3 separate regions of the Homo sapiens genome follow, and all the other regions are linked to region 1. Evidence: fine-mapped expression QTL. A gene starts in region 1. Each other region holds a variant in brackets. All regions are shown on one strand. Distances are from middle to middle.

The links.
Region 2: its variant is fine-mapped to the expression of GPAT4 in whole blood (TOPMed, PIP above 0.99).
Region 3: its variant is fine-mapped to the expression of GPAT4 in whole blood (INTERVAL, PIP above 0.99).

What each region holds. Positions count from the first base shown.
Region 1 is chr8:41,572,895-41,583,023 of GRCh38, forward strand. It overlaps GPAT4 (glycerol-3-phosphate acyltransferase 4), which reads left to right and starts at 5,306. Exons shown (of 13, transcript NM_178819.4): 1 at 5,306-5,384. GPAT4-AS1 (GPAT4 and GINS4 antisense RNA 1) reads right to left here and starts at 5,474. Exons shown (of 3, transcript NR_125824.1): 1 at 5,412-5,474. RefSeq lists silencers at 276-482, 5,033-5,652, 5,673-5,812.
Region 2 is chr8:41,515,933-41,526,061 of GRCh38, forward strand. No RefSeq gene overlaps it. Among named protein-coding and RNA genes, the nearest start is that of GINS4, 8.3 kb to the right of the region's middle. The variant G/A (reference allele first, on the strand shown) is at 3,948.
Region 3 is chr8:41,610,058-41,620,186 of GRCh38, forward strand. GPAT4 (glycerol-3-phosphate acyltransferase 4) reads left to right here. Exons shown (of 13, transcript NM_178819.4): 5 at 679-753; 6 at 1,846-1,935; 7 at 2,123-2,216; 8 at 2,788-2,903; 9 at 4,329-4,384; 10 at 4,906-4,991; 11 at 8,627-8,755; 12 at 8,841-8,920. Among named protein-coding and RNA genes, the nearest start is that of NKX6-3, 36 kb to the right of the region's middle. The variant AT/A (reference allele first, on the strand shown) is at 5,392.

The DNA of each region.
Region 1 (10,129 bases):
CTGGGATTACAGGCATGAGCCACTGTGCCTGGCAGAGTGTGTTTCTTTCAAATTGAAGACTATGGTATAGATCTGGACTGAAACAACCTGTCTTCTTCACTGCTCTTAACTGCCAAGTCTCTCCTTAAGTCTGGGCTTTCTTGTATTCATCCGATCCAACATATGTACCATTCGTATTCTGATGACTCTCAAATTTATTTATTTTTAACTTTTTTTTTTTTTTTTTTTGAGACGGAGTCTCGCTCTGTTGCCCAGGCTGGAGTGCAGTGGCGCAATCTCGGCTCACTGCAAGCTCCACCTCCTGGGTTCACGCCATTCTCCTGCCTCAGCCTCCTGAGTAGCTGGGACTACAGGTGCCTGCTACCACGCCTGGCTAATTTTTTGTATTTTTAGTAGAGACGGGGTTTCACCGTGTTAGCCAGGATGGTCTTGGTCTCCTGACCTCGTGATCCGCCTGCCTCGGCCTCCCAAAGTGCTGGGATTACAGGCATGAGTCACCGCGCCCGGCCTTTTTTTTTTTTTTTTTTTTTTTTGAGACATGGTTTCACTCCAGTAGTCCAGGCTGGAATGCAGTGAAGCAATCTCACTCACTGCATCCTCGACCTCCTGGACTCAAGTGATCCTCCCACCTCAGACTCCCAAGTAGCTGAGACTACAGGCTCCTGCCACCATGGCTGGCTAATTTTTTTTTTTTTTTTTTTAGAGAGAGGGTTTCACCATATTGCTCAGGCTGGTCTTGAACTCCTGGGTTCAAGCGATCTGCCTGCCTCGGCTTCCCAAAGTGTTGGAATTACAGGCATAAGCCACGATGCCCGGCCTGACTCTCAAATTTATATCACTAGCTGAAGCTCTCCTCCCAACTCCAGACTTAAAAAAATTGAGAGTAGAATTACCATACGATTGGGCAATCCCACTTCAGGGTAGATACACAAAATAATTGAAAGCAGGATCAATCCCAAATGTCCGTCAACGACAAATAGATAAAGAAAATGTGGTATACAAATACAATGGGGCCAGGCGCAGTGGCTCATGCCTGTAATTCCGGCACTTTGGGAGGCTGAAGTGGGTGGATAACTTGAGGTCAGGAGTTCGAGACCAGCCTGACCAACATGGTGAAACTCCATCTCTACTAAAAATAAAATTAAAAAAAAAAATTAGCCAGGCATGGTGGCGCATGCCTGTAATCCCAGCTATTTGGGAGGCTGAGGCAGGAGAATCTCTTGAACCCAGGAGGCGGAGGTTGCAGTGAGCCAAGATCATGCCATTGCACTCAAGCCTGGGAAACAAGAGCAAAAACTCCGTCTCAAAATAAACATACATACATACAATGGAATATTAGCCCTAAAAAAAAGGGAACTCTGACACATGCTACAACATGGATGAATCTGGAGGACACTGTGCTAAGTGAAATAAGCCAGTCACAAAAAGACAAAATCCGACTATTTATATGAGGCAGACTACTTGAACTCCCATTAGCAGAACGTAGAATGGTAGAATGGTTGTTACTGGGGGTAGAGAGAAGAGAAATGAAATTTTTTTTTAATGGGCATAGAATGTCAATTTTTTTTTTTTTTTTTTTTTTTTAGAGATTGGGTTCCCCCATGTTTCCCAGGCTTGGTCTCAAACTCCTGGGCTCGAGCAATCCACTTGCCTCAGCCTCCCAAATAACTGGAATTACAGGCATTAGATACCATCCCCAGCCTTGATGGAAATTTCTGAAGATTCATAATAATGAAAATATATTTAACACCACTGAACTGTACACTTAGAAATGATTAAGATGGGCCAGGCCCAGTGGGTCATGTCAGTAATCCCAGCACTTTGGGAGGCCAAGGTGGGTAGATCACCTAAGGTCAGGAGTTCAAGAGCAGCCTGGTCAATATGGTGAAAACCCATCTCTACTAAAAATGCAAAAATTATCTGGGCATGATGGCGCGCACCTGTAGTCCCAGCTACCTGGGAGGCTGAGGCAGAAGAATCACTTGAACTGGGAGGCAGTGGTTGCAGTGAGGCGAGATCTCACCACTGCAGTCCAACCTGGGCCACAGAGTGAGACTCCGTCCCCTCTCCCCTCCACCAAAAAAATTAGCCAGATGTGGTGGTGCATGCCTGTAATCCTGGCTACTCGGGAGACTGAGGTGAGAGGATCGCTTGGACCTGGAGGCGGAGGTTGCAGTGAGCTGAGATTGTGCCACTGTACTCCAGCCTGGGCAAGAGAGTGAGACTCCATCTCAAAAAAAAAAAAAAAAGAACTGATTAAGATGGTATAATAAATTTTAGGTTCTACGTATTCTACCACAATTGAAAACATTTTTTAAAAATAATATTTATTTTACTTTCTTTGGCTTTTTATTTTGGTGCTTGGAAATGAGCATTGATGTTGCTGGTTGTGCAGTCGACAGTTAGGGATTCACCTCTTAATGAATGGCAAACTCTTTGTAGATGTTAAAGTTGACTTTGGAAGGAAGATAAGTTGTACGGCACAGGCATGGTACTCTCCTGGGGAAAGGGGTTCTTCCCAGGCTCACAGCACTGTGCACCATGTACAGAGCACACATTTTGGGGAAATGCCCTCATACTATGAATGAATTCAAAGTTAGTATGGGGTAGGATCTAAATCTTGTGATCTCTTTCTTCTAAAGGACTACCCTTCATCAGGTTTTAAAAATTACTCCTATAATTTCTGCAGTATGAGTTTTTTCATTCTAGAATGTGAAAATACTGCCAACAATAATCTAAAGACAGCCCATATTCACAGCGACAAGAAGTTCAGTGTTGGCTATAGCTCGGTCATGCTATGGGCAGGAGGCCTTCTCTAAAGATAAGTCTGCTTTGTGTCAAGCATTTCAAGCATGACTTGCTTGTTTCATCTGCCCATTTACATTCCTTGTACCTAGAAATGAATGTGATAAAAGTTTTGGTGCCTACAGGAACTATATTTACCTAGTTCATGTTGGCTTCCCACTCAGAGGGAAGTTTGATTGCCTTCCTGCACTTGAGAAGTTTAGAGAATGTGCCAGTGAATGTGCACACTCACAAGGTGTGTGTGTGTATCAGTGTTAATACCCAACAATTGAGCCTACTATTTGCTTGGGCAAAGAACACCATTTTCTCTTGAGCCTCTAATATGTGTGAAATATTTTAAGATTTCAATATTATGTACAAAGAACTAGTAGATGGTAAGAATTGTGAGAAAATATAACCATGAGAACACAAAGAGAGTACAGCAGATGAGTGGGCTACTTCCAAGACTGGTTCTGGGGGCAGAAAAGGAGACCAGACGAAGGACTCCAAAGAGCAGTTGAGATCCTGGTGGCCACTTTAAATCCCTATCCCTAGCACTGTGGAGAACACAACACAAAAATGTATGATGTCTGGTTTCTTCTTCTTTTTTTTTTTTTTTTCTGAGATGGAGTCTCCCTCTGTCGCCCAGGCTGGAGTGTAGTGGTGCGATCTCAACTCACTGCAACCTCCGCCTCCTGGGTTCAAGCAAGTCTCCTGCCTCAGCCTCCCGAATAGCTGGGATTACAGGTGCGCACCACCACGCCCGGCTAATTTTTGTATTTTTAGTAGAGACGGAGAGACGGGGTTTCACCATGTTGGTCAGGCTGGTCTCGAATGCCTGACCTCGTGATTCCCCCGCCTCAGCCTCCCAAAGTGCTGGGATTACAGGGGTGAGCCACCGCGCCCGGTGGTTTCTTCTCTTATGGAATTTAATGTCGTTGACGATTAGACGTGGCCATGCATTACTCAATCTTGAATTGGGATCCCCAAAAAAGCTGGGCGAGTAACAAGGGCTCAATGAATGGATAAGTGATTGAGTTAATAAATACGTGATCAGTTCCAAATGGGTAACATTTAGTTATATTTGGTGGAGATAAGTAGTCCAGTGTTTTGGAGCTAAGTGGTTATTCTTTTTTTTTTTTTTTTTTTTGAGTTTGGGTCTCGCTCTGTCACACAGGCTGGAGTATAGTGCCACAATCTCAGTTCACTGCAACATCTGCCTCCTGGGTTCATGCAATTCTCCTGTCTCAGCCTCCCGAGTAGCTGGGATTACAGGTGCGTGCCATCACCCCCGGCTAAATTTTGTATTTTTAGTAGAGACGGGGTTTCACCATGTTGGCCAGGCTGGTCTCAAACTCCTGGCCTTAAGTGATCTGTCCGCCTCTGCCTCCCAAAGTGCTGGGATTACAGGCGTGAGCTACCCGCGCCCCGCTCCCCCCACCATTTTTTTTTAATTTTCAAAATTTTTGTAGAAGTGGGGGTCTCGTTACGTTGCCCCGGCTAGTCTCAAACTCCTGGCCTCAAGCGATCCTCCTGCTTTGGCCTCCCAAAACGCTGGGATTACTGGCGTGAACTACCATACTCTGCCCTTTATTCTTACAGAGATTTTGAGGTCTAAGAATGTGGACTTTAAAGATTTCATTATCAGATTATGCATTTAGCACGGAATGACAATCTGACAGCCGTGTACAGCGTAAACCGGCGGAGAGGGCTTGGCACTAAAGGCAAACTGTCTTTTAAGAACAGGAAAAAGAAAGGTAATATATATTTTAAGGAGGTCCCATTTTAGGGGAGATAATAAGCTTGGGTTAGGCGTCCGAAGTCAGAAGATATAGTAAGAAACACACACGCAAACTCCAGCAGCCACCAGCTAGACTTGAGTAGAGAGAGCAGGTCCAAGTGGAGGTGGAAGTTGGAAAGTTGCATCTGCCAGGCAGGGCGAAAGTGGCCTACACCCACTCCTGGAGCACCCTGCTTGACGAGCAAGGTAGACGAGGCTGAGGGATACTGCTGGTGATGACGGTGGTCGTGGTGATGGTGCTGGTAGCTAACAGATCTTGAGCGTACCAGGCCCTGAGCTGAGTCCTCTAACGGGCAGAATGTCGCTGCATACGGACAGCAGCCTCAAGAGGACAAGGTGATTTAGTGACTCTAGCCTCTTCCCGCGGTGCCAGCCTGATTTCACCCTCTCCGGAACACACAAGCGAACCTCCGGGGAGGGAGCCAGTATCGGGTCCTAACGCAGGGAAGCGCTCCGCTTTCTGAGAGGGACGCGCCAGCGGAGGGACAGCCAGGGCCCGGCCTCTCCTGCTCCTGCCCCGCCCCGCCCCCGGCAGTGCCCCCTAGTCCGCCAGAGGGCGACTCCGCGGGTCGCCCAACCCGCGACCGGTCCACGCGGCACCCGCCTCTCCCTAGGCCCCCGCCCTGCCGGCCCGCGCGCGCCCGACGGGAGCGTGCGGGGCGGTGGGCGCAGGGTCACGTTGGGCGGCGCAGACAAAGGCGGGCGCGCGCACGTCCTGACGCAGCTTGGGCCCGCGGCGGCGGCAAGGGCGGGAGGGAGCGGTCGCCGCGGGATTTGGAGCTGCCTAGCCTCGCGGTCGGTGAGTAGGAGGGAGCTGGCCCCTTACCTCAAAGTCTCCGACCTCCGGGGAGCCGAGAGCGGGACGTGGGAGCCGGGCTTGGGCGGCCGCGCGGGGCCTGCGGTCTGGGACGCCCCGGCGACGCTGCGCCGGCGTCAGGAGGCACCATCGCCGCGCCCCGGGGATCCCCGGCGGGTGGAGCGGGTGCCCCCCGTCCGGGATGGAACGGTCCGCGCCCGCCCCGAACCCCGGCCGCCCGCCTCTCCGCTCGCCTGCTCTCCGAGCCCGGCTCCTCGGAGCCCCTCGCCTCCCCCAAGTCCCAGGTGTGCGCAGCCCTCCCGCCCCGGGAGTCCGGGGATGTGGGTGGCGAGGGCTGCTGGGCGTTGGAGCACCAGGAAGCGCCTTCCCCTGTCATTCCCCTTCCTGTGTTCTCTGGCTGCCGTAAGATGCATGTCTTTACCCTCTCCTTCTCCAAATGCATGCTCCCATTTTTCTTTAGGATTTCTTAACTCCTGAAATCCCTTGCCTTTCCTTTTTTATTTCAGCACCCTCTGAGGCATCCTTCTCCCAGTGGGGCTTGTTTATTTCCTCGCTTTCCATGTCACAGAGGGCTGAAGTTTAGCTGTTCAGAAGTTGCAGAAAATAGCTTATAGGAGACATACGGTGTAGCACGATGGAAATAAGTTCCATCCTCTGCCAAGTATTACCATGGATCTTCTCATGGATAACCTTGAGGTCATTTGAGGAATTTTGTTTTTGGTTCATTTTCCTTAATTTTGGCTGAACTTTGAGGAGCTCTCCTTAGTTTCATGTCTTGTAGATTCTATCTCAATCCAAGGGAAATGGTGTGAAGAGCAGTTATACCATACCAAAGTCTCCAGACAAAATCCTGTAATAATGCCAATCAAATATACTTCTCTCTTTGAAAGAGATGTGCTTTTCTTTTCTTTTTTAACTTTGTATTTTGGAGAATTTCAGACACAGGGAAATAGATGGAATAGGGAACCAGCATGTACTTGTTCTGGCCTCCTCAGCCACTTAACTGTGGCTATTCCTGTGCCATACACACCCCACCCATTTCCCCTCCCGTATGTCTCAGGGAGAACTTGATGCAAGATGAGTCTGTCAAAAGTAGCTTCAGTTCCATAATGAAAACCACCATACCAAGTCATAAGGTGCTTTTTGTTTTGGAACACAGCCTACTCATGAGGTCTTCAGCTAAGAAACACAGTAGAGTTGAAGAAAGAGCACAGCAAAAGGTATCTTAACATGATAGAACAGGTTAAAAGAAAAAGTATGGCCGGGCGTGGTGACTCACGCCGGTAATCCCAGCACTTTGGGAGGCCGAGGCGGGCGGATCACCTAAAGTCAGGAGTTCAAGACCAGCCTGGCCAACATGGTGAAACCCTGCATATACTAAAAATACAAAAATTAGCCGGACGTGGTGGCAAGTACTTGTATTCCCAGCTACTCGGGAGGCTGAGGCCGGAGAATCGCTTGAACCCAGGAGGCAGAGGTTGCAGTGAGCCAAGATTGCGCCGCTGCACTCCAGCCTGGGCGACAGAGCGAGACTCGTGTCAAAAAAAAAAAGAAAAGAAAAAAAGTGTTTCAGATCTGGATGAGAACATTCGGAACGTCCTGTTCAATGTTTTCATTTTTTTCTGAGCCCTTGGAGGTCCAGAGAAGTTCAGTGACTTGTCCAGAGCTGCAGGTCTTAAGAGGCTGAAATCTCGCCTCTGCCTCGAGGCTGCGGTTCCACTGACCCATACTACTTGCCTTCAGGAAAGAGAAATGGTGTAGGAAGGCTGTGGATGAAGACGCTTACATTCATGAAGGATTTGGATAGGCGAACATGAGCTTTTCCACCAAATTTCAGAATTTTAAGAAATGCCTTAAATTATTTCTTAAAAATCAATTTGGGGCAGACGAGAAGTTCTGATAATAGTTTTTAGGGAACATGATAAAATTCTGACCTTAGAAGTGGTATACCAGTTTGAGAAGAAGAACAAGCTATAAACGGTGTAGATAACATTCACGGCTATTTAAGAAAGAGTTACTAAGGGAAACCAGAATGACTTAAGAGTGTTACTCTTCTTTTTCTGAGAGAACAATAGCATCATCTCAGAAAGCCTTTCATGCCATTAATAGGTAAGAATCTGGGCTTCTTGGACCATGGGTTAGACTTTCTTACAAAACCATAATATGCATTTCCTAGCAAAATTTATGCTATTACATTTCCTTATCTCAACAAAGACTGGTAAATTCAGTACTTATTCCTCAATTTTCCTACCCTTAAAATGGGGATATTCTGCCTCTCCAAGGAATGCTGGGAACAAGCAAGTCCTCATGTTAGGGGTCTTTGAGTTTTCATGGAAGTTTAGGTTATTTATATGATGACATAGTTGTCAACTTACTTTCAGGATGGACTTTTCTTTTGTGAGTTTGTGACCTAAATACAATAGTTGTTATGCATGTCCAGTTTATGGAAGTACCACTGCAATAACAGCATTTGAGTGTCATGGTAAATCATTACCCCTAAAGATAGAGGAGGGAGGAGGAGGCAACTGTTGTGTGTCTATTTTGTGTTTGGTGTGAGGAGTGTTGTGGCTAGGCTCTTCAGAGGCTAGCCTAACTTGCTAAGTGGTTTCTGCTAAAGAAAAACCCACTTTTCTTGTGTGTGCTTGTCACCACAAGTTAGCTTTTATTAAAAACAAAACAAAACTCTCTAAGCTATCTGGAGATGATTTGGCCCTGGTTAAACATGAACTGTACTGCAGAATTGTTTGTTTGGGTAAAGTAGAACCTCATTATGACGTGTCTTTTACTTCCTACTGTGTCATTGTGCTCATGGAGAGAACTTGACGGAATATCATCCGTTCCATGTATCACTAAACCATGTAATAGCGTACACTATGATTAAGGCTTTTTAAGAGAATAGAATTTTAGAGTTAGAAGGAGTCTTCCAAGTGCTTAGAGTTTCCCCTGAGTCCTTTAATGTACTTTTTCACCTTTAAAACACATGCAGACACGTACACATGCCACACAAACACAGAGTCTCATCTAGGGCTCTCTTCATTTTGCCTTGTACAATCTTAGTATGTTTGGATCCCACCTCCAGTTAATTTGTAAACCGAAGATCTGCAATAATAGAAAAATGCTTTGTAAAACAGGAGCGTAATACATTTGCACTTGACTTTTATTTATTTATTTTATAGAGATGGTCTTGATCTGTGGCTCAGGCTGGAGTGCAGTGGCATGATCAAGGCTCACTGCACCCTCAGCCTCCCTGGCTCAAACGGTCCTCCCGCCTCAGCCTCCCAAAGGGTCGGAATTACAGACATGAGCCACCATGCCAGGCCTTTGTTGACTTTTTTTTTTTTTTTTTTTTTGAGACAGAGTCTTGCTCTGTCGCCCAGGCTGGAGTGCAGTGGCGCAATCTCGGCTCACTGCAAGCTCCGCCTCCCGGGTTCACACCATTCTCCTGCCTTAGCCTCCTCAGTAGCTGGGATTACAGGCGCCTGCCACCACGCCCGGCTAATTTTTTTTTTGTATTTTTTAGTAGAGACAGGGTTTCACCGTGTTAGCCAGGATGGTCTCGATCTCCTGACCTCGTGATCCCCCCGCCTCGGCCTCCCAAAGTGCTGGGATTACAGGCGTGAGCCATCGCACCCGGCCGACTTGTTTGAATTAAAAAAAAAAAATGATCAGGAAGCTTAAATCAAGGGAAGTTCAATGATTTTTTTTTTTTTTTTTTTTTTTTTTTTTTTTGGAGACTGAGTCTTCCTCTGTCGCCCAGGCCTGAGTGCGGTGGCGAGATCTCGGCTCTCTGCAACCCTCCACCTCCTGAGCTCAAATGATTTCCCTATCTCCCAAGTAGCTGGGATTACAGGCATGCGCCACCACGCCCAGTTAATTTTTGTATTTTTAGTAGAGATGGGATTTCACCATGTTGGCCAGGCTGGTCTCGAACTCCTGACCTCAGGTGATCCACCCACCTCAGCCTCCCAAAGTGCTGGGATTACAGGCGTGAGACACTGCACGTGGCCGAAGCTGAATGATGTATTCAGGGACACATAGACTAGACAGTAAGAGTTGCACCTAGAACCTAAAGGCAGTCCTGGTTCCAGATCTAAGCCCTTTCTGCTGTACCATTTTCTTCACCTTGGAGAAATAGGGTGGGAAAGTATACACACACACACACACACACACACACACACACATCTTTCTTTCTTTCTTTGCCAGTTGAAGATACATTATTTTGAGTCTCCTTTAAAAATTTTTGATCAGTGCTGTCCCATAGAAATATTATATATGCTATATACACAATTTTAAATTTTATAATAATGCTTTTTTAAAAAGCACAAAGAAATAGATAAGGTTGATTTAATCATTCCACAAGGGGAGGGAGAGAGAGAGAGTGTGTGTGTGTGTGTGTGTGGGTGTATCTCAAAACATCACATTGTGCTCCATACATATGTAAAATTATGTATCAATTTTTAAGAAATTGACAAACAGTAATTTTACGTATTTATAGTGTACAGTAATATTTGCCCACATGGATAGAATGTGTAATGATAAAATCAGAGTATTTAGGATATCCAGCACCTGAAACATACATCATTTCTTTGTGTTGGGAACATTTCAAATCTACTTAACATTTCAAATTAAAATATACAAGAAATTGGCCTGACGTGGTGGCTCATGCCTGTAACCCTAGCACTTTGGGAGGCCAAAGTGGGTAGATCACTTGAGGTCAGGAGTTTGAA
Region 2 (10,129 bases), 57 kb before region 1:
GGGAGGCTGAGGCAGGAGAATCACTTGAACCCGGGAGGCGGAGGCTGCAGTGAGCCAAGATCACGCCACTGCACTCCAGCCTAGGCAACAGAGCAAGACTCCATCTCAAAACAAAAACAAAAACAAAAAAAAAGTAGGGGCTGGGCTCACACCTATCATCCCAGCACTTTGAGGGGCCAAGGTGGGCAGATTACTTGAGCCCAGAAGTTGAGACCAGCCTGGGCAACAGCAAAACCTTGTCTCTACAAAAAAACACAAAAATTAGTTGGGCATGGTGGCCCACGCCTGTGGTCCCAGCTACTTGCAGGGCTGAGGTGGGAGGATCACTTAAGCCTGAGAGGTCGAGGCTGCAGTGAGCTGAGATCATGCCACTGCACTCCAGCCTGGGTGACAGAATGAGATCCTGTCTCAAAAACAACAACAACAACAACACACACACACACAATTAGGAAAGGCCAAACAGCATGTTTTGGGGGATTTTTAATATTGCAGAAAAGATCTTCCCTTAATATTTAATGACATGGAGGGACTATTTCAGGATAGGAAAAATCACCTTTTAAGTAACCAGAAACCCCACAGCAGCCATCTTGAATACAGAAACTTCACCAGCCCCTGCCAGCAAGAGCTATAAATGTAAAATTATCAGATCCCTGATAGGGGCTCCCTGAGGAAATTTGCTTGTGACAAGTTGTTTTCTATTCCCTAGGAATAGAAAGGGAATAGTTGTTTTCTATTCCCAAGTACTGTGTAGATTTTGAAGTGACCACAAGTTTTCCATAAAGGAAATGTGTGCTGCCAGAGTAATACACAGCTGTATATTAACTCCATGCAGCAGTTAAGACAGCAAGTAAAAATGCCTCTGAGACCAAAGCCAGCATTTAGGCTCAGAGGGTAAAATTCAATCTGATCATTTCGTTTAACAGATAAGCTTGGCCGGGCACGGTGGCTCATGCCTGTAATCCCAGCACTTTGGGAGGCCGAGGCGGGTGGATCACAAGGTCAGGAGTTTGAGACCAGACTGGCCAACATGGTGAAACCCCGTCTCTACTAAAAATACAAACAAAAAATTAGCTGGGCGTGGTGGCGGGCGCCTGTAATCCCAGCTACTCAAGAGGCGGAGGCAGGAGAATTGCTTGAACCCGGGAAGGCGGAGGTTGCAGTGAGCCGAGATCATGCCACTGCACTCCAGCCTGGGCGACAGAGTGAGACTCCATCTCTAAAAAAAATATATTTTCCTGGCAACCAAGGTCCCAACAAGGTTTTCAATGGAACTTGACATGCTGGTTTTAGAAAAGTGAAGAGACATGCCCTGTATCTAGCAAGACATGAAGTTGTAGTAGCTGAAATGTGTCTCATTGGTACAAGAATAGCTCACGGATGATGGAACAGAAGAGAGACCTGCACACAGACCTCAGAATGCATGGTGTCCTGGATCGTCCCCTTTTGTCTCTCATACCTTTTTTCCTTCGCTGTGCTCCTTATGTTCTAAGAAGACGAATCTGAGCAGGCTGCAACAACCTGGCTCCCTTGCCCTGTCGTTTCTGGTAGGGTTCAGGCAAGGGAGGGATCAGCAGGGGACCTGAGCGTGGAACACTGCATCACAGAAGTGGCTAACTATTTAGACAGCTGCTTAGGGATCTGGAAGATACAACTGGAGGCTGATGAGGAAGAGGAGAGAAACCCTATGTGGATGCACCCTAGGAGTGGGCATAGAAGGTGAAGAAATTCATATGTTGTGTATGCCCACCACATAGCATCCCTGCAGGGAGGTTCTCATTGCAGGAAAGGAAGTGGAAAGTCCTCTGATATCAGTCAGCCTCTTTCCCAGCCTTCCTGGTGCTGGCTCAGTGGGACCATGTGAAAAGGTGGACACAGCAAGGATGAAGCATGCAAGGGGCTCCACAACATGGGCCTCCTTCCGTCATGGCTGACCTGGCCACTGCTACTGCTGGCAGCCCAACTGGCCGATGGAGACTCATGCTAAGCCCACAGTGTGGCACCGTTTCCCAGGAGGGAGGGAGGGAGTTTTGATTATATATTTTAATTACTGAATGGTACTTAAGGAGATCATGGAACTCTTTTTTTTTTTAAGCAGAGTGACAAGAGTAATCAGTTTTTGTCCAGTGACAGGGGAAGAACTATCCCCAACAAATAAATGTAGAGAAAAAATAAACTTGTTTTATAAGCACATTTCCTGAGTTATGCTAATTGATGCCATGACTACACACACACACAGCTCATATTACCATATTATTTTGGGGTACACAGTTGGTCAAATTTAAAAACATTTCTGGGAACAGGCCAGGCACAGTGGCTCACATCTGGAATCCCAGCACCTTGGGAGGCCGAGGTAGGAGGATCGGTGAGGCCAGGAGTTTGAGACCAACCTGGGCAACATAGTGAGACAAAAAACAAATTAGCAGCCGGGCGCAGTGGCTCATGCCTGTAATCCCAGCACTTTGGGAGGCCAAGGCAGGCAGATCACTTGAGGTCAGGAGTTCGAGACCAGCCTGGCCAACATGGCGAAACCCCGTCTCCACTAAAAATACAAAAATTAGCTGGGCGTGGTGGCGGGCGCCTGTAGTCCCAGCTACTTGGGAGGCTGAGGCAGGAGAATTGTTTGAACCCGGGAGGTGGAGCTTGCAGTGAGCTGAGATCCCACCATTGCACTCCAGCCTGGGCGACAGGGCAAGCCTCTGTCTCTAAAAACCCCCCAAAATACAAAAAAACAAATTAGCCTGTAGTCCCAGCTACTCAGGACAGTGAAGCGGGAGGATCACTTAAGCCCAGGAGGTCGAGGCTACAGTGGGCTGTGGTTGCACTCTGGCCTGGTGACAGAACGAGACCCTGTCTCTATTAAAAACAAAACAAAACAAAACAAAAAACTATTCATAGGAACAATAAGCACCAAGTTGAAGATACTGGTTACATCTAGAGAGTAAGGAACAGGAATGAGGTCAGAAACAGGAGCACAACAGACTTAGATTGAGTTTGTCGTGTTATATGGCTTCTTATCATTCATACGTTTTCAAATGCCTAAAAAGAACCAACAACTTGTACTTGTCAATATGGATTACCATATCCTAAATATCAGGCACACCAGTTAACATCTTCAGTATTATGAATGGTTTTGATAATTTGGATGCAATAACCACCACCCCATGGGATCCCTTCAATTTCCTCAAAGCCTCCGGGCCTGTTCAGCTGATTGGTTCCATTGGTCATCAACAGAGACTAGCCTCTGAGCTCTGCCAGTTCTAATTATAACCCCCCCAAAAAGGTGGAAAATATGAAAAAAGTGGCTTTTTCATGCTTACAAGTATACGAGTAGAACTCTAAAATACATGAATTAAACTTCCAGCCTAGAAGCAGGTTATAGCCAAGGGTAAAGTTCAGGGTCAAGCTGAATTTTCACTGGAAGTAAACATGTCTAATACAAAGCAGAGAGGATGACTAGGAAAGCATGATCTTGCTTCACAGAGAAAAGTCAAAGGTAACAGCAGCCCTTACAACTCCATGGGTCACATCCAAATCTTATTGATTCCAATGAGTTAGCAACTCATAGCATCACAGCTGTTCACAGCAAGACCAGCAATAATAGACCAAATGACCCAAGGCTTCTGGTTCTTATTTCAAAAAATATCAACAATTAACACAATTGCATGACCAGACTTCAGTATTTTCAGTTGAAAGTATTTTCATAACTGAACTGAAATAAACTGAAAAATCTAATAATTTCTATCACTTTGGGGTACTCTAAAGGTGGAATTATTTCACTATCTGTTCTGAGCTAAGTCAGTAGTAAAATACTCAGATAATGGTATGTGGCATGGAACATAATCATCCTGTTCTCTAGCCTTCTGATAAATAGAGGGTGAATGTCGAACTCAGCTAAGATATTAACTTTTACCAGTGAGAAACCTGGAAGTGTTTCAGTAAAGAAACCT[G/A]TCGTAACCCAGAAGGTTTTAAGATGTCACAAATTTAAAATTTCACAATTTTCTCCTGTTAGGCCTCTTTTTTTTTTTGTTTGAGACAGTCTTGCTTTGTTGCCCATACTGGAGTGCAATGGTGCCATCTCGGCTCACTGCAATCTCCACCTCCCAGGTTCAAGCAATTCTCCTGACTCAGCCTCCCGAGTAGCTGGGACTTCAGGTGCCCGCTACCGCAACCAGCTAATTTTTGTATTTTCAGTAGAGATAGGGTTTCACCATGTTGGCCAGGCTGGTCTCAAACTCCTGACTTCAGGTGATCTGCCTGCCTCAGCCTCCCAAAGTGCTGGGATTACAGGCGTGAGCCACTGCACCCAGCCTAGGCCTCTTACTCCTTATGATTTCAAGTACTGACATCTTAAGAGATGTATAATTCATAGACACTACATGTAGAGGGAAAATAATGACAACAATGGTAATTATAATTCCATCTTTGTAATTCTAATTAAAAAGCTTGGAACTTAGGAATAATTTTATTTATTTAATTTTTTTTTTTTTTTTGAGACAAGATTCTCACTCTGTCACCCAGGCTGGAGTGCAATGGTGCGATCTCAGCTCGCTGCAACCTCCACCTCCCAAGTTCAAGCAATTTTCATGCCTCAGCCTCCCGAGTAGCTGGGACTACAGGCGTGCACCACCACGTTCAGCTAATTTTTGTATTTTTAGTAGAGATAGGGTTTCACCATGTTGGCCAGGCTGGTCTCAAACTCCTGGCCTCGATTGATCTGCTCGCCTAGGCTTCCCAAAGTACTGGGATTACAGGCATCAACTACCATGCCTGGCCAGAATTTAGGAATAATTTTAAATGAATCTTACTGTATTTTATCAGCTCAAGAAAACCATGACTTATATATAGTTGAGTCTTGAACAACTCAGATGTTAGAGGCACTGAACTCCTGCACAGTCAAAAATCTGCATTTTTTTTTAAGAGACAGGGTCTCGCTCTGTTGCCCAAGCTGGAGTGCAGTGGCACAATCATAGCTCACTGTAGCCTTGAACTTCTGGGCTCAAGCAATCTTTTCGTTTTTGTAGAGACAGGGTCTTACTATGTTGCACAGGCTAGTCTCGAACTCCTGGTTTCAAGCAATCCTCCTACGTTGGCCTCCCAAAGCACCAGGATTACAGGTGTGAGCCACCATGCCCAGCTTCGTACAACTTTTGTTTTTTTCTTTTTCTTGAGGTGGAGTCTCCCCCTGTATCCCAGGTTAAAGTGCAGTGGCACGACTCATTGCGACCTCTGCCTCCCGGGTTCAAGCGATCCTCCCACCTCAGCCTCCTGAGTAGCTGGGATTACAAGTACGTGCCACCACACCCAGCTAATTTTTGTATTTTTAGTAGTGACAGGGTTTCACCATGTTGGCCAGGCTGGTCTGAAACTCCTGACCTCAAGTGATCCGCCTGCCTCAGCCTCCCAAAGTGCTGGAATTACAGGTGTGGGCCACTGCACCCAGCCACGTACAAATTTTGACTCCCCAAAAACTTAACTACTAATAGCCTACTGTTGACTGGAACCCTTACCCATAGCATAAACAGTCAATTAACACATTTTAACGTTATATGTGTTACATACTGTATTCTTACAATAAAGTAAGCTAGAGAAATGAGTATGTTACTAAGAATCTAAGGTAGAGAAAATATATTTACTATTCATGAAGTGGAAGTGGAGCATCATAAAGGTCTTCATAAGAAGGAATGAGGGGGCCGAGCGCGGTGGCTCACGCTTGTAATCCCAGCAATTTGCAGGGCCTGGGCGGGAGGATTGCTTGAGACCAGGAGTCTGAGACCAACGTGGGCAACCTAGGGAGACCTCATCTGTACAAAAACTAATAAAAAATAAATAAAAATTGTAAAAAGAAGGAAGGAGGGGTTGGTCTTGCTGTCTCATGGGTGGCAGAGGCAGATGAGGTGGAGGAGGTGGAAAAGGAGGCAAGCACACTGGTGTAACTTACTTGAAAAAAAACCCAACATAAGTGAATCCCAGCGGTTCAAATCCAAGTTGTTCAAGGGTCAACATATATAGATGAATGAATTTTATTCTAAGAGTTCTCCCACAGAAAACAATTATTTCAATAACTGTTAGCCTAAATTTCACAAAACGGGCCGGGTACAGTGGTTCATGCCTGTAATCCCAGCACTTTTGGAGGCTGAGGGGAGCAGATCACTTGGTGTCAGGAGTTCAAGACCAACCTGGCCAACATGGCAAAACTCTGTCTCTACTAAAAATACAAAAATTACCCAGGCATGGTGGCACACACCTGTAATCCCAGCTATAGGGGAGGCTGAGACACAAGAATCGCTTGAACCCAAGAGGTGGAGGCTGCAGTGAGCCAAGATCACACCACTGCCCTCCAGCCTGAGTGACAGAGCAAGACCTTATCTCGAAAAATAAAATAAATTAATTTAAAAAGTTATCAAAATGGTGCCCATGTCTATGATTCATTAACACAAAGAAAAGAAAGACATTAAAATTCAAGACAATAAATGAAATTTTGATACGGGGCACATTCTTGAACAAGGCTACCTTTTACCCTTTACTTTGACTATAATCAGACCTTTTCCCATCACTATAGGAAAAGAGAGAGAGAGAGAGCACGCATTGCCCTAAGGTGCAAGCATTTAGAAATACTGAGTTTGGGCCGGGTGCAGAGGTTCATGTCTGTAACCCCAAACACTTTAGGAGGCTGAGGCAGGAGGATCGCTTGAGGCCAGGACTTCAAGACCAGCCTGGGCAACATAGTGAGACCCCCGTCTCCACAAAAAAAAAAAAAAAAATTAGCCAGGCACGGTGGTACACACCTGTGGTCCCAGCTACTTGGGAGGCCAAGGTGGGAGGATTGCTTGAGCCCAGGAGTTTGAGGCTGCAGTGAGCCATGACTGTCCCACTGCACTCCAGCCAGAGAGAAAGAGAGATTGAATTTGGCCTGGCTTTTATTTAGACCTTAGGACAAGTCCCTCAAGATCTCTCAGCTAAACTATATAGACTTTAATAAATATGAAGCCTTAGGCTGGGCACAGTGGCTCATGCCTGTAATCCCAGCACTTTAGGAGGCTGAGGCAGGTGGATCACAAGGTCAGGAGTTCAAGTCCAGCCTGACCAAGAAACCCCGTCTCTACTAAAAATATACAAGTTAGCGGGGCGCAGTGGCAGGCACCTGTAATCCCAGCTACTCAGGAGGCTGAGGCAGGAGAATCACTTGAACCCGGGCGACAGAGGTTGCAGTGAGCCGAGATCATGCCACTGCAGTCCAACATGGGCAACAGAGTGAGGCTCCATCACAAATAAATAAATAAATAAATAAGACTTGCCCAACACTTGGGCACATAAGCTTCTCATCAAAGATGCCCATGATATAAAGGCACATGAATTTCTTTATGGAAAGGTCACCTTTCTCTTTGCTTGACATATTCAGAAAAGCATTAGGAAAATAATCTTACTCAACCAGCTACATGCTATGTTGGCCACAGTGTTTCATAAGATATATTTAATTTTTAAAAATTTTTTATGATTATTGTATATTCTACAACAAGCAAAGGGGCAGATAGTTCTTATATCTCCTTACAGAGTTTCAGAGGACCTAGGGTCTGAGGAGAGCAAAGGAATTAGGAATATCATAAATTGCCCAGATTTTCCATTTGTAAGGGAGACCCAAGCCTTGCCCGGCTTCCTGAGTTCTCCAGCATCCTGGCCATGCAGCTGGCATTGGGTGTTATCATTGGCCAGAAAAATACGTATAAGTTCACCAGCCAATAGCTTTCCTTATGAGCCTAAGAGAAAACAGCGTAAGCACACTTTTCTGCCTTCCTTAAAGCTCTTTGGGAGCCCAAGGCGGGTGGATCATCATGTCAGGAGATCGAGACCATCCTGGCCAACATGGTGAAACCCTGTCTCTACTAAAAATACAAAAATTAGCCAGGCATGGTGGCACACCCCTGTAGCCCCAGCTACTCGGGAGGCTGAGGCACGAGAATCGCTTGAACCCAGGAGGCGGAGATTGCAGTGAGCCGAGATCATGCCACTGCACTCCAGCCTGGCAACAGAGCAAGACTCCGTCTCAAAAAAAAAAAAAAATGCAAGCTGTCCTCTTACATGGCTGTCTGTAGTGCCAATCTTCATGCATTCAGAAAAACCGGGAGTTAAACTCAACTTAACTAAAACACTCCCAAATCTTAATTCTTTGGTTTCCAGGGCAGTGAGACCAAGATTGTGATGGAATTCAGAAAAAGGGACCCCTGAGAAACAGCTGCTGACCAAACAAGCAAGGGCACTGATATGAGAACAATAATAATGCCATTACTTGTATTCTGAAAGCATCTTTCTCCAGAAAGCTCACAATTCTGTATAGATATACAGTATTTACTGTTGTTTTTCCTTGGTGATTAAAACATTAAATTTGTTCTCATTAATAATGTATCTTTTTGGCCAGGTGCAATGCCTATAATCCTAGCACTTTGGAAGACTGAGGTGGGCGGATCACCTGAGGTCAGGAGTTCAAGACCAGCCTGTCCAACATGGGGAAACCCCATCTCTACTAAAAACACAAAAATTAGCCGGGCATGGAGGCACATGCCTGTAATCTCAGCTACTCTGGAGGCCAAGGCAAGAGAATCGCTTGAACCTGGGAGGCAGAGGTTGCAGTGAACCAAGATCATGCCACTGCACTCCAGCCTGGGCAACAGAGCGAGACTCTGTCTCAAAAAATAAAAATAATGTACCACTGGGCCAGGTGCAGTGGCTCACGCCTGTAATCCCAGCACTTTGGGAGGCCGAGGCGAGCGGATCACAAGGTCAGGAGATCCAGACCATCCTGGCTAACATGGTGAAACCCCGTCTCTACTAAAAATACAAAAAATTATCGGGCGTGGTGGCAGGCGCCTGTAGTCCCAGCTACTCGGGAGGCTGAGGCAGGAGAATGACGTAAACCCAGGAGGCGGAGCTGGCAGTGAACCGAGATCACGCCACTGTACTCTAGCCTGGGCGACAGAGTGAGACTCTGTCTCAAAAAATAGTAATAATAATAATAACGTATGGCTGTCCACAAATATTTTGGCTGTTTCTATTTGCTGTGTCTATAATTTCCATTAACATCTTCACTGAGAATATCTGAATATTGCTGTGGCTTGTCACTTTCTTCAGTTGTATAGGATCCTATTTTCTGTATCTTCCTCTTCCACTTTGGGCAGTAGCTTTTTCCTTCTCTTTCGAGGTAACTTCATGTTTTACTTGTCTGAATTCATGTTAGTATGTTCATCTTGCAATTTAAATCATCTAAGCTTGCCTGCAAATTCTATCCACAAACTTCATCCTCCTAATATAATAATCTATGTAATCACCTTTTATCTGTGATCATTTTAATGAATTGCATTCCATTTATATGGCTATCTTATTATTTCTAAAACACTTCTTGACAGTGGGTGCACATCAACCAGGTGTTCCTGATTTTTCTCTTCATTCTATATAATGTAATTGAAGACCTCTTTTCTCCCACCTTCCTGAACTTTACAGTGCCAAACGATCAACACCAAAAGTTTGTGTGTTGCTTTGGCATTTCTTTTAATAACCCTTCTTTACACAGCAGAAATATTTTTCTGCCAACTCATTTCCTCTAAAAGTGTTTTTGTCTAATGAATATTAGTTGTAATCAAAGATCTTAGAAGTGAAACGGGTCCCTCAATTTTTTGGTCTGTCCCTCTGTCTTCAGGCAGACACATATTAATTTTGTGTAAAAGGTGGTGTGATTAGCCAGGCGCGGTTGGATCACTCCTGTAATCCCAGCAATTTGGGAGGCTGAGACAGGTGGATCACTTGAGGTCAGGAGTTCGAGACTAGCCTGGCAACCATAGCAAAACCCCATCTCTACTAAAATACAAAAATTAGCCAGGCGCGATGGCGTGCACCTGTAGTCCCAGCTACTCGGGAGGCTGAGGTGGGAGAATCGTTTGAACCTGGAAGGCAGAGGTTGCAGTGAGCTGCGATCACACCATTGCACTTCAGCCTGGGTGATAGAGTGAGACTCCATCTCACAAAAAAAAAAAAAAAAAAAAAAAAAAAAAAAGGTGGTGTGACTGATGGCCAGGTGTGGTGGCCCCCTCCTGTAATCCTAGCACTTTGGGAGGCCGAGGCGGGCAGATCACTTGAGGTC
Region 3 (10,129 bases), 37 kb after region 1:
GGAATGACTGTCGTTAGCCAGGCCACGTGACTCTTTGGAGGGATACACTGGTGATTCTCCTTTAGAGGCCCTTGGATTCTCTGCATATCAGACAGAAATAGTTGGATTTCTTAAAGACAGCTTGCTTCTCTAGATGACAGCAAACACAGGGACAGGGAACATTGTGTGCTTTCTGCCACTCCTTCCTGGACATGGCTCATTCTTTCCTGAAGCTTGCCTCTCAGGTACAGGGGCAGTATTGATCTTTCAGCTTCTCTGCACCATGTGCTGCTCTGAGTGTGCCTTGCCAGATGCTAATACCTTCAAGCTCCACCTCCTGTTGCTTCAGAGGGAAGCTGTGCTTCCACCGGGGTTTCCAGCCAAAGGGAAGGGGAGGGCAGCAGGGAGCAGCCCTGTGGCAGAATGGCCAGCTTAGGGTTTTCCAGCCTTCCAGCTGCCTGAGGCCTCAGGAGATGCAGGCAGCTGAGAGCCAGACCCATGGCTCACTGTCAGCTGGAATCAAAAGGATCTCTGGTTCTGATAGGCCTGCTTACATTTCTAGGTGAACTCTGGTCCAGGTCCCAGGTGAGCAGGTCTTGGGGGTGGTTTTTGTGATGCCCCCTTTGATTTTCACACCTTCAGTTCTGTACTTGGTAGAATGATTTGCTGGCTGTGCTCTAACTTTTCTTCTTCTTACAGGATAGCACTGGCTTTCACAGGGATTAGCCTTCTGGTGGTGGGCACAACTGTGGTGGGATACTTGCCAAATGGGAGGTGAGTAGAGTGTGGCAGTCCATGCCTGAAGGACAGTTAGTTCTGGGAATGGTGCTCAGATATCGAAGGCAAGGACACTTCTTTGGACACAACCAAAGCCATGGAATCTTAGATGGATTAAATAACCCAGTGGTGGCCAGGCACGGTGGCTCATGCCTGTAATCCCAGCACTTTGGGAGGCTGAGGTGGGTGGATCACCTGAGGTCAGGAGTTTGAGACCAGCCTGGCCAGCATGGCGAAACCTGTCTCTACTAAAAATACAAAAGTTAGCCAGGCACGGTGGCGGGTGCCTGTAATCCCAGCTACTTGGGAAGCTGAGGCAGGAGAATCCTTGAATCCAGGGGGCAGAGGTTGCAGTGAGCCAACATCACACCACTGCACTCCAGCCTAGGCAACAGAGCGAGACTCCATCTCAAATAATAATAACAACCCAATGGCAACAACGGCATCAGCAGTAAAGTCTTTACTTTTTTTAAATTTTGATCTATGACTGTTCTTTTTGTCCTTCAGCCCTCACATTCTTCCCATTTTGAAGACAAAAGGGAGGAGCCACAGACATGTAGAGTCCGAGACTCAGATGTTAACAGATTTTACAGCTTGTTGTTTAGTTTTGAGCATTTGACTGTGTGGATAAAGTGATGAGACAATACAGTTTTTAAAATGGTTTGAAATGTAGGGAGGTTTTGTCTGTTTGTGTGAAGAATATTTTGCTCCCTTTGGGAAGTTCTGGGGTTTAGAAACCTTTCTTCTGCCTGGGCGGGTGAGGAGGTTGGCCTCTGGCCTTGGACCTGCCTCTGGATGTTGACTGGGGGAACGGAGTTCAGCCCGCCTGTGGTCTGCGGATGCCGGATTCTAGGCTGTGAATTCTCCACCCACTGATTTGGGTGGATGTAAGTGAGTCTCCCTGTCCCCTCTTTCTCTCCTCATGTGTGAACATAAAGGTGCTCATGCATCACAGGACTTTCCTGTAGGTGCTGATGTCTATACAAGCACTTTGCTGTTATAAAGGACTGCTGAGCTGTTGAAGTCAGTAACTCTTTCTGTCTTCCTGTATGTAAAATAAAACCCAGAATCCTTGTCCTGTTATTGCAGGTTTAAGGAGTTCATGAGTAAACATGTTCACTTAATGTGTTACCGGATCTGCGTGCGAGCGCTGACAGCCATCATCACCTACCATGACAGGTGAGAGCGCTTTGTATTGATAGGAAGGGAGATGGCGCTGCAGGAAACACCACCCACCTATACTTAGCCAAATGGGAAGACACTTCTGAGCTTTTAGTTAGAGCAGATGAAGCATGTGAGGTGAGAGGTGTGTTACATGAACTGTTTCACACTAATTTTGGTTGCTTTGCATACATTTTAAACCCAGGGAAAACAGACCAAGAAATGGTGGCATCTGTGTGGCCAATCATACCTCACCGATCGATGTGATCATCTTGGCCAGCGATGGCTATTATGCCATGGTAAGAGCTCTTTCCGGTGCGTTCTTGAGGCAAGACTTCCTGCTTTAGAGTGGTCAGGGCTAGGAGGCTCCTGGACCCTTCACATAAACACATTTATGCGTGGGCCAGGCCCCCACCTTACTGTCACTGTGGGGGCTCTGTGGGACTGTGATAGGAGATACCCTGGGCAGAGTGATTGGTGAGTGTGGCTGGAGAGGATGCCAAGGGCAGTCAGGCAGACCAGCAGGGGCAGAGGGAGTTGCTGGCAAGGACTGTGTCCAGGGCATCTGAGAATCTGCCCAGGGAGGGGCAGTTTTACACAGGGAATTGCGCTACTTTAGTATTTTAGTATTTTGTCTTAGGGGTTTCAGTTATGTTTTTAATTACCTATTTCTAGTATTACTGATTAAAAGGAGAAGTTTAAGATTTGGGGAGTCTTGGTAGTGGTTTCTTGGCAGTGAGCAACCTTCAGCCGGCAAGCGTTAGAAGTGAGAAGTTGGACTGCTTATTTTGTGAGATGTGGTTCTTCCTAGAGTGGGGAGATTCGTGTGAAGATGGCTTCACTACTAATGAGTCCTGTGCCTGCGCTTAGGTGGGTCAAGTGCACGGGGGACTCATGGGTGTGATTCAGAGAGCCATGGTGAAGGCCTGCCCACACGTCTGGTTTGAGCGCTCGGAAGTGAAGGATCGCCACCTGGTGGCTAAGAGGTAATGGACAGAACACTGCTGTTCTGCTTGGCCAGTTAGAATGCTGAAAAGGTTTCAGGGTAGTTATCCCTCCACAGTGCAGTTACGTGCCTTCTATCATAAGCCTATACTGCTTTCATAATAATTTTTTCCTAAAACATGAAATTTTAAAAGTGGCCGGGTGTGGTGGCTCATGCCTGTAATCCCAGCAGTTTGGGAGGCCGAGGTGGGCGGATCACTTGAGGTCAGGAGTTTGAGACTAGCCTGACCAACATGGTGAAAATACAAAATACTAAAAATGCAAAAATTATTGACGGGCATCTGTAATCCCAGCTACTAGGGAGACTGAGGCAGGAGAATAGTTTGAACCAGGGTGACAGAGGTTGCAGTGAGCTGAGATCGCGCCATTGCATTCCAGCCTGGGCGATAGAATGAGACTCTGTCTTAAAAAAAAAAGTATAGAAACCCTAGTATTATTTACCAAGTTAATAATGTTTCTTAACCTTTTTTTAATTCATTGTACCCATCATAATAAACAAAATACGAATTTTTACTGCTATTTGAAACCTCAAAATGAATTCATTTATCACAAATAAAAAGAAACCTAAGGCAGTGGAACAAAGTACTGCCCTGTTTTCAAACTTTAAGAAGGTGAATCTGCTGTAAGTAATGCAAAGAGATTTGCAGCAGACAGAGACATCAAGACAGTTGAGACCAAGCCACACATGGTGGCTCAGGCCTGTAATCCCAGTGCTTTGAGAGCCCGGGAGTTCGAGACCAGCCTGGGCAACATAGGAAGACCCCCATCTCTACAAAAAATTTAAAAATTAGCTGAGCGTGGTGGTACGCTTCTGTAGTCCCAGCTACTTGGGAGGCTGACGTGGGAGGATCGCTTGAGCCAGGGAGGGTGAGACTTCAGTGAGCTATGATTGCACCACCGCATTCCAGCCTGGGCAACACAGGGAGACCCTGTCTCAAAAAATAACACATAAGAAAAGACAGTTGAGATTATCTTCCATAGAGACAGATGAACTCTCCCCTAACTCCCTTTGCTACATCTCAGGGACAGAGCATCGAGCCAGCAGGGCTGGGCCCAGCCTCACAACTGTTACATAGTCTAGTGACACAGGTTTATTGAGGGGGCCATGCCCAGGCCTTGTGGCAGGTGTCTCTTTCAGGTGGCCCCCAGGTTGAGTGGCATCATTGGTGCTCCGATGTTCGCACAGAATTGAACAGTTCTGTGAATTAAATGGTAACCTGATTTTTCTCTATCCATATACATTTTTTCTTGATGAGCATTAGATTATGGGTTTAAAAGGATACAGTTATGCTTGTTAACTTTTTATAATCGAAACTAGTGTCACAAATAAATAGGTTATTTATAAACATATTTTGACGATGTGTATAAGGTTGTCTGACCCTTTATTTTATTTTCTTCTTTGAAAGACTGACTGAACATGTGCAAGATAAAAGCAAGCTGCCTATCCTCATCTTCCCAGAAGGTAAGAAGGGGTTGGTTGCCACGAAGGGCTTCTGTGGGGAGTGCAGGAGTGTGATGCTGATGTTTCCTGGGAACCAAGGCCCTCAGCCCTTGTTGGGGTTATCTGTTTTCACTGAATAATGTTAGGTCCCCTTTAGGTTGGAAGTAGGACTAAAAACTCAGGTAAGTTCAGAATTTGAACTAAGAATGCCATAGTGTGAACTCCCCAAATGCAGGAATTTCTTCTGTAATGTTTCAGCTCCTCACAGAGCTCATGGTGTCCTCCTAAGGCCACTGCGCGTCTCTGCTTTATCTAGGCTGTGTGTATGAATCAGGGAAAGTGGTCCTGTAGAAAGAGAATCGGAGGCACCATCTTGCCTGTCTCTGTTAAGTGTTTGTTTTTAAGTTAGGGAGATGACAGATGTATCTTACTGGAGGAACCATTAGAAGAATTTTGACTATTATACTTAGTCTTTAAGAAACGCCTAATATCTGGGGTAAAGGGCCAACAGAAATAGCATTTTATTGTCTCCTGCATTTTAGGAACCTGCATCAATAATACATCGGTGATGATGTTCAAAAAGGGAAGTTTTGAAATTGGAGCCACAGTTTACCCTGTTGCTATCAAGGTATAAGACCTCCGATGGTACACACTGTCATTACTGGAGCTGCTGTGAGTGGGGTGCAGCAGGAGGAGGTAGAGGAAGGAGCTGGGGTCACCAGTCTGTGGTCGATGCCCTCAGCAGAGTGGCGTGGGGCTGGGTTGACGTGGGTCAAGTGCTGCCGGAGGAGGATGGTGAGTGCTCAGCACCCCTTAGAAGGGCCTGGGGAGTGTGGAATGGGGGACAGCCAGATTCCCGCCTGCATGCTGCTGCCGCCACCATTCGGGAAATGGCAAGCCCTTCACTTATTACCTTGCTTCATAAACCTAGCTGGAATGTAGGCCCCTCCACATGGAAAGCTGGCTGATTGCAGGGCACAGTGGTGTGGTTTTAAGCTGGATTTTTGCATTTTGGGGGAGCCATGAGG[AT/A]TGGGGGGGGGGTCATTACTCCAGCCCAGTGGGAGAAACAGCTTCACTGCTTTTAGTTGTGTCATCTTTTAGACCTACAACAGCTCCTAACAATGAGATGGACCCTGGGAGTTTATCTAGTCTACGTCGACCCTTTAGGAACTGCTCCTCTAACCCTTCAGACACCCAGAGCTATAGGATGTGATTAGCTAGTCATCTGCACATTGTTCCTCCCCGCTCTTACCCTCTTCACATCCACCAGGCCTCACATCATGACACCTACAAAACACAGGCCATCCTCAGTGTGGTTAAAGTATTTAGGCTGCAGCCTGAGAGCTCGATAAAATGGTGAGCAGATATGAGTCAGGCTCACACTTAGAATTTCTTTTGTAGGGGACTGGGTTGTCTGCAGAGCATTCTGTAGAGTTGGTTCTGACTTTCTTTTCACCTTGCCAGTGCCACTGGAGAGGTGTTGCTCCTGGTGAGGCCGATGCTCACCAGCCACTCACTGTTTATCATTTAGGCAGAGGACCAGGCCAGGGATGGCAGATGAATATTGCCTGCAGGGGACTCTGATTGACAGGCTAGGACTCACCAGAGCCTGAGGATGCTGTGTCTGGAAACAGCAGGAAAGAGGAACATAGTCTGTTAGCAGAGTCTGCCTTGGGTGTGGGAGTGGGGACTGGCATCTGCATCCTGCATTCTGGCAAAACGAGGACAGGTGCTTTGCAGTGTGACCGTGATGCTGGATGGAAGCCCTTACTGCTGCCTCCAGAACAGCAGCTCTTGAACTTAGGCTGCATCAGCATTGCCTGCAGGGATTGTTTAAATGCAGATTGCTGGGCCCCACACCCAGGGTTTCTGAACTTCCTATTCTTTTTCTTTTGAGGCAGGGTCTCAGTCTGTCACCCAGGCTGGAGTGCAGTGGCACAATCATGACTCATGCAACCTTGACCTCCCACATTTAGGTGATTCTTGTGTCTCAGCCTCCCAAGTAGCTGGGATTACAGGTGCACACCACCACACCTGGCTAATTTTTTAATTTTTGTAGAGACGGAGTTTCCCCGCGTTGCTCAGACTGATCTAGAACTCCTGGACTCAAGTGATCCGCCTGCCTTGGCCTCTCAAAGTGCTGGGATTATAGGCCTGAGCCACCCCGCTGGGCCTTCTGATTTTCCATTCTAACATGTTCTGGGTGGCATTGATGGTGCCAGTTGGGACCACACTGTGGCGGCCACAGTTCTGAAGCAGTGGCTCTTAGCTGCTGTCAGAACACGAACCCTGAGGAGTTTCCGCTCCTCTCCAAAGTAAAATGCTTATAAATTTTAGATACATTTCCATTTAGTCCACAGAGTAGAGCCCATGTATGGCTAAGAACATCTGGTCTACAGATTACTGGTTTTTGTGAACTCTTTATTGGTAATCAAACTTGGATAACCTTAGCGATTTCAAGGCTCTTCTTATATTTCCACCGGAATCCAGCCATGACCTGATGTGAGGAGTGTGTCGCTGTGTTGAGCTTCTGCCTTTTTTCTCTGTCCACACACACTGCCCAGTGTGGAATAGAGAATCAGCCCGAAACAAAGGGTTCTCACACTCTGGTGACATCAGAATTTCTGTCCATATCAGGCTTTATAAAATACAACGACATGACCAGATGCAGTGGTTCACGCCTGTAATCCCAGCACTTTGGGAGGCTGAGGCCGGTGGATCACTTGAGGCCAGGAGTTCGAGGCAAGCCTGGCCAATATGGTGAAACCCCGTCTCTACTAAAAATACAAAAAAATTAGCCGGGCGTAGTGGCAGGTGCCTACAGCCCCAGCTACTCGGGAGGCTGGGGCAGGAGAATGGCGTGAACCTGGGAGGTGGAGCTTGCAGTGAGCCGAGATAGCGCCACAGCACTCCAGCCTGGGCGACAGTGTGAGACTCTTGTCTCAAAATGTATATTATTATATATAAAATTAAAATTAAAAAAATACTTTCTGATCATACACATTGCTTAGTTTTAAAAACTTATTATTTTCCCTTGTTTCTGTTGGTATTATAATAACACATTAAGTCTTCTGTAGTTAAATCTAATTTTCTTAGCTTCTATAATTAAGCCTAAGTTATCTTCATTTTTGTAGTTAGGGCCACAGTCTTGTCAAAATTGTCCAGTATTTATACTGTGGATCATAAAACTTAGGCTGGAAAGGCCTATAAGATCATAGAGTTCAACCCTAGCCCATCCCACATGCAGGACCCTGCCCTGGGCTCCTTCTCAGGCTTTCCCAGGGAAAGGGCATTTTTGATGTTGTTGGCAGCATGGCCGTGTGGCATAACTCTTGAAATTCTGGCTCCTTTATTTTTCCACTCTGGTCCTGGGTGTTTGCACAAGGTCAGCCTACTGCCTTGTGTACAGGATCCCTTCAGACATTCGCTGGCAGCACCAGGCACTTTGTCCAGGCATTCTCAAGCACCCAGGTCCTCCTGTTGCTCCTTGCGCAACTTCCTCTAGAGCTTACCTACCCTGCTCACCTGCCCCTCCAGCTACTTGTTTGGTGAGAATGTGGGTCACAGCTGCAGCTACATTTTCTGCAAAATGCCAATGAAATAATGAAAGGATCTGATACCTGCTTCATGGTAGATGCAGGCCTGTGTGGTTGAGACCTCCCAAGGCTGTCAGCGTGAGCACAGAGCCGCCTCCTGAACAGACGACTGACTTTGTTGGAAGTGTAAATGTAGAAGCTTTCTAATAGTTTCCTCCCTGGTCTGGGCACCAGAAATCATATTTAAAAGTTGGTGTTTGTGTAAGAAAATATCTTTATTTGGGGGAGGTACACTAGATGAATGACAGGATGCTGAGAGGGGACAGGTGGAGCAAGTGGGAAACGTTGGCGGTGGTTGAATCAGGGAATGGGTACATGGGAGTGCATGATCCTTTTCTCCCTGGTTTTGGAGATGTTTGAAAACTTTATATACCTATGAGTAAGACCTGAAACTAATCAAGGAGGGAAGACATTTGCTTGAGGCAGGCTGTCAGGGGAGCCTTCCTTACTGATCTGTAGCAGAGGCCGGGTTCCTCGGGGGAGATCAGTGTTGCTCACAGTCAGAACCGGCCACATGGAGAGGGGCTTCCACAGTACTCATGCAAGGTCAGGGAGCAGCACCCCAGTACCAGCACGGCCCAGTGGAGTCACTCACAGCAGTCACTGTGGACTCGCAAACGTTGTGAGAACTACTCATGTCTTACCTCCAGCTTTCCATTGTTTTCAGTATGACCCTCAATTTGGCGATGCCTTCTGGAACAGCAGCAAATACGGGATGGTGACGTACCTGCTGCGAATGATGACCAGCTGGGCCATTGTCTGCAGCGTGTGGTACCTGCCTCCCATGACTAGAGAGGTGAGTGCCTGCCCCAGGCAGGTCTGCGCCTGCTCTGTGTAACGTCAAGCCGGGGCTGAGTGGTCTCATTTGTTCTTTCTTACAGGCAGATGAAGATGCTGTCCAGTTTGCGAATAGGGTGAAATCTGCCATTGCCAGGCAGGGAGGACTTGTGGACCTGCTGTGGTAAGTTTAGAGCCAGGCCTTTTCAGCTGAGTTTCTGCAGCAGATGCTGTGTCATTGACTTCACTTACATGTCATTCCCCGTGGTGTGGAGAATTAAACTTGTCAGCTCTAGAGAGAGCAGTTTGACTCTCCCCGAATTCCAACCCAGAAGTGCCCTGTGCTTCCTTGACCTTGGGGAACCTGGATCAGGGATGCCTGGACTGAGGCAGTTGATTCTGTGTACCTTTCTGGGGTTTGAACCAGTCTTCCAGGACACCTGGACAGTGCCCATCTCTGGGTGGGCATGACCTGCTACTGATCTGAAAACTTCAAGAAGGAAGGAGGACTTTCCCAGGTCCCAGTGTATCTGGCAAAATTGAACCATTCTTAGAAAGGTAAAGGTTGTGTTTGGTGTATTCAGCTTGTTACCTAATAGAGCAGGATTGACATACTTTTTCTGTAGTCAGTAAATATTTTAGGATTTGCAGGCCATATGGTGTCTGTTGCAGCTACTGATGATCTCTGCCATTGTAGTGTGAAAACAGACAGTCTATAAACCAATGAGCATGGCTGTGTTCCAATAAAACTTTATTTACAAAAACAGGTATCAGCTGGATGTGGCCCGTGGGCTGCATTTGACCAGCCCTTATACTAGAGTATGAGGTAGTTTTATCCCAAACAGTAGGAGACTGACAGGGGTCAATGCTGGTTCAGAGAAAGTTTTCCACTCTGTGGGGCATTTAGGTTTAAGAGCCAAGGGTCAACTGGGGAGAGCATTTGACTTAGATGGGCATTATCTATGAGAAAAGAAAGGGTAGAAATTCACATTGTAAACCCAACTGTAGAGTCTCAGGGAATAGATTGGCTCTCAGATGATGGCCTTTTAAAAAATGCTAGTGTGGATTGTGCACTCACTGTGTGCCAGTCACTGAGCTGCTGGGGCCCTGTGTGATCGTCTCTTTCGCCCTCACAGTAGCCGCAGCGCTGTAAACAGTGTTCCCATTTTGCAGATGAGAAACTGAGACTCAAATCACTTTTTTCCAAAGTCATAACATTAGCACTGGAGCTAGATTTTGAACCCACATCTCACAGACTTTTAGAGCTTGAAGGTTTAACTTCTGCCCCATGTTCCCATCTCTGAAGTTTAACAAAGACAGAGTGGCTGCTTTTAAAATCTATGCCTTTGCTATGGATTTTAAAGGGTGTAGCGGAGAGACTGAAAGCGGGCTT